Linked DNA regions of Homo sapiens. The protein of the gene in region 2 purifies or fractionates together with the protein of the main gene of each other region. This does not show direct contact. Each region holds a gene or a part of one and is shown on either strand. Other genes may lie near its edges.

What was found.
Region 1: the proteins of ARHGAP25 (region 2) and DSTYK purify together in Homo sapiens (affinity purification with mass spectrometry; 3 studies listed by BioGRID and IntAct, with this or other methods). This does not show direct contact.

What each region holds. Positions count from the first base shown.
Region 1 is NC_000001.11:205,170,130-205,173,781, forward strand, and holds part of DSTYK (dual serine/threonine and tyrosine protein kinase), read right to left. Parts: intron 1,433-3,652; coding exon of another isoform or gene 1,378-1,432; intron 1-1,377. UniProt on the Homo sapiens protein: Acts as a positive regulator of ERK phosphorylation downstream of fibroblast growth factor-receptor activation. Involved in the regulation of both caspase-dependent apoptosis and caspase-independent cell death.
Region 2 is NC_000002.12:68,733,166-68,736,917, reverse strand, and holds the start of ARHGAP25 (rho GTPase-activating protein 25), read right to left. Parts: upstream 2,108-3,752; 5' UTR 1,719-2,107; coding exon 1,658-1,718; intron 1,542-1,657; exon of another isoform or gene 1,379-1,541; intron 1-1,378. UniProt on the Homo sapiens protein: GTPase activator for the Rho-type GTPases by converting them to an inactive GDP-bound state.

The DNA of each region.
Region 1 (3,652 bases), on a different chromosome or scaffold from region 2:
CACTGATTCCCTCTGATGAAGAATTAAGACAAATAATGGAAGAAAAAGGAATTGTAATGGAAATTATCAGACTGGGAGTGAGTCGACCTGGGGCACTCCTCCCCCTCTTGCTCTCCTCTGACACCTCCATCCCTGCCATTCTGACCTGGCTAACTCCTAAGCATCCTTTAAGTTTCAATGTATATGTTATGACATATCCTTATAGAGCCTTTCCTATCACACAGCCCCAACCAAGCACACTTTACTTCCCTCTTCTTAAGGTTCAACATATTTATAATCCACTTCTTTAAAACCTTTCTTTCCCCCATGGGTCTGTAAACTCTTTGAGGGCAGGGACTGGGTCTATTTTGCTTACTATCGTAGCTCCAGTGCCTAGCATGTGGTAAGTCCTAAATACTGTTGAATTAATCAATTAAGCAGGAAACGAAAAGCCAGGTTCACCAAACATTATTACTGTCCTGTTCTGAGTCTGTAGATATCCCGAAGTCTTAGCAACCTAAGTCTAAGAAATACCTTTAGGAATATGATCGATCACTTGGTATGGCAAAGACCAAGGTTTGCCTATCCAATATCTAGTCTCCATGTTATAAGTGAAGGCAATGTCCTTTACAGATAGGGGTATCCGATAAGTGGGTGGGGTTTCCAGGAAAGCCCTTTAGGGTACAGGGGGTGGATTCTACCAGGAAATATGTCCTTTGGCCTTGTCCTTCTTCCTGCTTGGAGCACAGATGTGACAGCTAGAACAGCAGCGATCACTCAGCAGCCCTAAGGCAAACCTGATGGTGGAAGCCAGCACTAAAGATGATGACACCAAAAGAAAGAGGGAGCTTAGGTCTCTGGTGATCACAGAACTGCCATGCCAGCTCTCAGTTACCTAGCTTCAGACTTCTTTCATGTAAGGAAAAAAAAAAAAACCCAAAAACTCTATCTTTAAGTTCCTGGTTTTTTTGTGTTTGTTTGTTTGATGATCTGTTACAATTGAACCTAATCCTAACTGAAATACCCAAGTTTGCTAAAGTGAGTTTCGAGAATGATCTTTAAGCTCGGCGCAGTGGCTCACACCTGTAATCCCAGCCCTTGGGAGTCCAAGGCAGGAGGATCGCTTGAGGTCAGGAGTTTGAGATCAGCCTGGCCAAGATGGCAAAACCCCATCTGTACTAAAAATACAAAAATTATCCGGGTGTGGTGGTGGGCGCCTGTAGCCCCAGCTACTCCAGAGACTGAGGCAGGAGAACGGCTTGAACCCAGGAGGCGGAGGTTGCAGTGAGCTGAGATCGCCCCACTGCACTCCAGCTTGGGCGACAAAGCAAGACTCTGTCTCAATTAAAAAAAAAAAAAAAAAAAAAGATCTTTGAGGTTTGAGGTTTAGAAACAAACCTTCCACAGGTCCTTTGCCTCGTCTGCACTTTCCACTTTGTGTTCTGCTTCTTTCCTGTGAAGGTTCCAAACACACAAGAGCATATGTCCATCTACTGCATTTCCATCCATTGCACAGGTTGTTCCTCTGTGTCTCTGACATTGTCTACTTTGCCTGGCATTCCAGGTGTAAACGGTTAACTAGGGACTCACACATATTAATATATTACCACTGTAGGTACACAGACTCCTGATGTCTTCAAGGGTCTGTAAACTCAGAATCAATCCTCCATAGAATTCTAGCATATTTTAGAGTTATAAAAGAACTCAACACAAATATGCTCAAGTTTGTGTCCTTAACAGTTATCAGATGTTGAATATTTACTTTGTCTGAAGTCTAAAAGATACACAATTTCGTTTCTTTCAGATGATTATGCTGTTTTTATTTCTTACCCTATCTGAGCAGCAGGTTTATTGATTGATTGATTGAGATGCAGTCTCACTCTGTCACCCATGCTGGAGTGCAATGGCACGAGCTCGGCTCACTGCAACCTCTGCCTCCTGGGTTCAAGTGAATTCTCCTGCCTCAGCCTCCCGAGTAGCTGGGATTACAGGCACGCACCACCACGCCCGGCTAATTTTTGTATTTTTAGTAGAGATGGGGTTTCACCATGTTGGCCGGGCTGGTCTTGAACTGCTGACCTCAAGTGATCCACCTGCCTCAGACTCCCAAAGTGCTGGGATTACAGGTGTGAGCCACCACACCCAGCATGAGCAGTAGGTATTTTTGATAAAAGTTTTTCTGTTTGTTTGTGGTTTTTTTTTTTTTTCTGAGACAAGGTCTTGTGCTGTTGCCCAGCCTGGAGTGCAGTGGTGCAATTAAGGTTCACTGTAGTCTCAACCTCCCAGGCTCAAGTGGTCCTCCCACCTCAGCCACCCAAGTAGCTGATACTACAGGTGTGAGCCACTACGCCCAGCTAATTTTCATTCTTTTTTGGGTTTTTTTTTTTTGGTAGAGATGGGGTTTTGCCATGTTGCCCAGGTTGGTCTTGAACTCCTGAGCTCAAGCGATCTGCGCCTCAGCCTCCCAAAGTGCTGAGATTACAGGTGTGAACCACTGTGCCCAGCCTTGAGTTTTTAAAATCTTTTTTATTTCCAACAAAGCACAAATATCTCACTTTCTTTTCTCACAAAGAACTATGCTATATTCTCAGATAGGTCACATAACTTTAATTTGCCTGGCCACTTTGAACTCCCTAAAGCTCAAAGTGCTTTTAGCATCTCACCATTTGTCATTTTAGCAAACACTACATAAGTCAATCCACCCTTTATCCAACCCCAAGCCAAGAAGAAATTTGCTGTTTCATCTGTGTCTCAAGTTGCATGGAATGTTTTCTGGTTGGAAGACTAGTCTGATGCTCATCTTGCTATTCAAAACAAACCCCCTTTCACTACCCTGAGTCACACATGCTACAGTATGAATCATTTCAGTCAGGCATATTCAAAAAGTTGGTAAGTAACAAATTTTAAGGTTTAAAATAGAACATACAACTGCATAAATGACAACATTATAATCACATATAACAATGAGATAAAGACTAAAAGGAAAGGAAAACAGTTACATTAGGCTGGGTGTGGTGGCTCACACTTGTAATCCCAGCACTTTGGGAGGCTGGGGTGGGCAGATCGTTTGAGGTCAGGAGTTCAAGACCAGCCTGGCCAATATGGGGAGACCCCGTCTCTACTGAAAATACAAAAATTAGCCAGACATGCTGGTGCACACCTATAATTCCAGCTACTCAGGAAGCTGAGGCAGGAGAATTGCTTGAACCGAGGAGACGGAGGCTGCAGTGAACTGAGATCACACCATGCACTCCAACCTGGGTGACAGAATGAGACTGTCTCAAAAAAAAAAAAAAAAAAAAAGAAAAGAAAAGAAAACAGTTACATTAAAGTAAAGAATTATAGGTGGAAATATTTTTTATATTACAAAGCTGCCCTAAAGACATATTTTTTAAAAGATATAAATCAACCAATCAAATTTATGAAAGGAAAGCCTAAATATTCAAAACCAAAGTATTGTTTAGAAATTTCAGGAAGAATTTTGTTTGTTTTTTCTGATGGATTATCTTAAAATTCTAGAATAAATTTTCAGGTTTTCCTTAAAGGACCATTTTGTGTGCACAACAGAAACATCAGCCAAAGCTGCCAAGTCCATTTGTAAGACCAATACGGTTGTTTTTTTTTTTTTGAGATGAAGTCTCGCTCTGTCGCCCAGGCTGGAGCGCAGTGGCAC
Region 2 (3,752 bases):
GGGGCTAGTGAACATAGACCACAGTACCTACAGCAGGAATTCTTCCTCAGGTGAGGATGAAAGTGGGGGGTGCTTGTCAAAATGCAGGATCCTGGGCCTTCCTCCAGAGATTCTGATTTTGTAAGGATGGTGCCCAGAAATCTGCATTTTTAGCCAGCACTTGATGTGAGTCTGATATAGGTTATCTATGGGACCATGCTTTAAGAAACATTGGTAAAAATCATGAAATTCACTCAATCAAATCCCAGACCTGAGTATATGCAGTCTTGAGCTCTAGTGTGGTAATTTCCTATATCTGTGAAAAAAATCATTTAACTATTAATTGTCTCAACTTTCTTGTTTTTTAAACCAAAGGAGAGTAAGACCCTAATAACCTGTGTTCAAACATAGGTGGAGAGAAGGCAGAATGACCTTATTTATGTAGAAGCAGGACACTTTCAAAGGAACAGAACCATATAATTTGTATGACATAGATTGAGCATTAGCCAAGTACATTTGTATCAATGATAGTTAGGAGGAAAATCTCTTGCTTTTGTAAGAGGTATGAACATTACCTTTTCTCTGAACTGACCTCAGCATACAATCATTCACAGCTTGATTAGGGAACGCTAATCTCCCCTAGTTATCAAGATAAATGGCTTCTCTGATTACTCTGTTTTCTTTCAAACCCTTTCTCAGACCTACATCATTAATGCTCCGCTTGTGACTTTTCAATGGAGCACTTATTTTAGTAGCACACTTAACCCCATTAGAGGTTCAAATCTAAACCTTTTTCCAAGCAAAATTCCTCCAAGCTGTTAGAAACACCTTAATACTTATCTATATCTAATATCAAGGAAGTTATCTCATGTATGGGTGAGATACATAAATGTAGGCAATAGTTTTCAGCCCGATTGCTCTGATGTGAATTACTGTGACCAATTTAGCAATAGAAGAAATCTATGTAAAGAACTTCATAACGAATATATAGATTAAACTTAATGTATCACTATCATCATTAGAAGGACAGGGTATGGATTAAAGGCCAGACTATCTCAGAAAATATGCCAGTCTCCCTTAAAATAATAAAAAATACATCTCTTTTCCAACTCATCTAAGAATTCCCTCCCATTCTGTTCCTTTAATTATATTTTTATTAAGTAAGGTCTTTATTATACTTTAGTACGTTTTTATGTTCCTGTCTTGTTTTTGTTGTCTACCTTTTGCTACTACCTTTTAATACACCTTGACTCCTGGGCTCACAAAACAGAACACCCATTGAATTTACTTACAGATTGAGCACTTCAAAAGACTCTAGTCTTTGTGCTCCTGTTCAGAACCATTCAAAATATGGATGAGTTTCCAAACAGGAAGGAAATGGAATATGCTAAAAACTCACAGTTTTGTGTGTAGTCTGTAGCCTTAAATCATCCGAAGTACCCCAGATCCTGCACACCAAGGAGTGCCATCCCACTGTTTTGTCCAAATGAAAGAGAACCCCCTCCCAGCATTTTAGAACTTGGACCTGGCATGCCAACTTAAATGCAAATGGTCCCTCAAACTCAGATTTGCTGCGAGATCCATTTTTAAGTAGACTATGCTCCCTGCAGACCAACATGCAAATGGTGCTCGAGTATACGTAAGAATCACAGAGGCAACGAAAAGACACCAACCATACCTATTTTCGCAGCCTCCACTTTCAGGTTGAAATCCCAGTTCCTTGGCAATTTTAGGGACATTTTGCTTCCAGTTTAAGTGAGTAGTTAGTGAAGCGGTGAGTCTGTCACAGTTTGCGCCCTTCTTGTCTTTTCACTCTTTCCCTCTGTTTTTGTGTCTGTTTTTGTTCCTCCTTATGATTGCTTCACAAGCAATCTTAGGCTTGAGGCTGATTTGCCAACGTGTCTCCTCCTTTCTCTTAGATGAAAGGTCCATCCATCTGTCACTGGAGGATGGCACCCAAACTCCCCCAGCCTCCACCCTCAGTCCCACAGGGGCTAGCACCCTGCTTTTCTTGCTTTCAGTTTTACCAGAAATATCCCAGTTGACACTTCCCTCTGCGTCATGGGAAGCAAAGCTCCTTTTCGAAAGAATCTCAGGCCTTACTGAGTTGAGGTCGTGATAAACAACTGCTGCCTCTTGGTTTTGTGTGTGTGTGTGTGTGTTTCTTTTTTAACTGTCTGCTTCCTTGCATTTGAGGAAGTGGGTGGCTGTTCAGTGAAGATGATACATTATGAGCACTCTTTCTTGAGAAAATGGTTTTTGGAAATGCTTGAAAAACCAGAATGGTTGCTTCTGTTATAAAAGATTACAGTTTTAATTAGAAGAAAATGTCGAAACTCCCATCATCTACTTCAACTCTAAGCTCTCCTCTTCCTCACCTAACGGATCAAGCATCCAAAAATGGTCAGAAAAACAACAAGCATTCCCCCAAAGTTATCTTCTTTTAAATTCTTCCTGCTGTAAGGACCATGTCGCAAGCTCTCCAGGTGCTCAGGATAAAGTTTGCAAGTGATCTCAGCCTGATGTAGGGAGGGTTTTGATGTATTTGGCTTAATGAAGCAACTTAAGCTAGGTCGACCCACTCACATATCCTAAGGGTTCTTTGGCATTGTACACAGGGTGTGGGCTTTAGAATCAGGGTGTGTGGGCTGTATACATGGTGTGGGCTTCCATTTGCTAGCTCTTCAACTTTTGAACAAGCAACTGAATCTTTCCAGACCTTAATGTCCTCATCAGTAAAATGGGGTTGATAATAACCACAACTCAAAGGGTTTTTGCAGAGGAATCTAGTGCAGAGCTTGACACAGAGTGGTTGCACCACACACATTAATTCAACCTTTATTCTATTCTATTTAGTTCAGTTCTGTGACAAGCTTTCATGTTTAACTGGGTCAGCCTAACCTAGTGCTTAAGCATTTGGGCCCTGGAAACAGATCACTGGTAGTCAAATCCTGGCTTTCCTGCTGTGGGACTATGGACAAGTTTCTTGACCACTTTGTGCTTCAATTCTTATCTGTAGATGGGGCAAATAATAGGGCTTACTTCATAGGCTGTTGTGAGGCTTTAGTAGAAAAGCCAGTACAAAGTGCTCAGAACAGTCACTGCTAGCCAGCATCTAAGCTGCACGCCTTGCTCCATTCATTCTCCAACTCTCCTAGATGACTCTGTCATACTTTCTTCTTCACCTGCCACTTGCTTACTCTTACTGACGACCTGGGTTCCCGTTTCATTGAGAAAATCAATGTAACTGAAAGAGAATGTCCACAAGCTTCCCTCACTCTATCTGCTCACCTACCTGCATGCAAGCTGTATCCCTGACCTTATTCTTGGTACAATGGGTGAACTGGCTGTTAACACTCTCCCATCCCTATTGCATCATCAATTTCTTCTCTCTCTTTGATCCTTCCTGTCAGCGTTCAAACTTACTATTTTTTATCCCATAAAAAATCTCTCTGGATGCCACCACCCCCTTGGGCTAGAGTCCCATTTCTCTCCTTCATTTCTGAACCAAGCTTTAGTAAGAATTGTCTAACTTGCAAATATCTCTCCTCTTATTCTCTCCCGAATCCCTTGGTTGATGTTTTTGCCCCTATGACTCCACAAAATATATTCTCATCAAGGATACCTACGACTTCCCTGTCACTAAACTCACAGGTCAGGGCTTCATCTTCATCTCACGGGCCCATCAGCAGTGTCGGACACATTTGATAGCTCTCTCCAACTCTGAGCCCTCTGTCCATGGGGCTCCCACGGCCCATGGTTGGCCTGGCTGT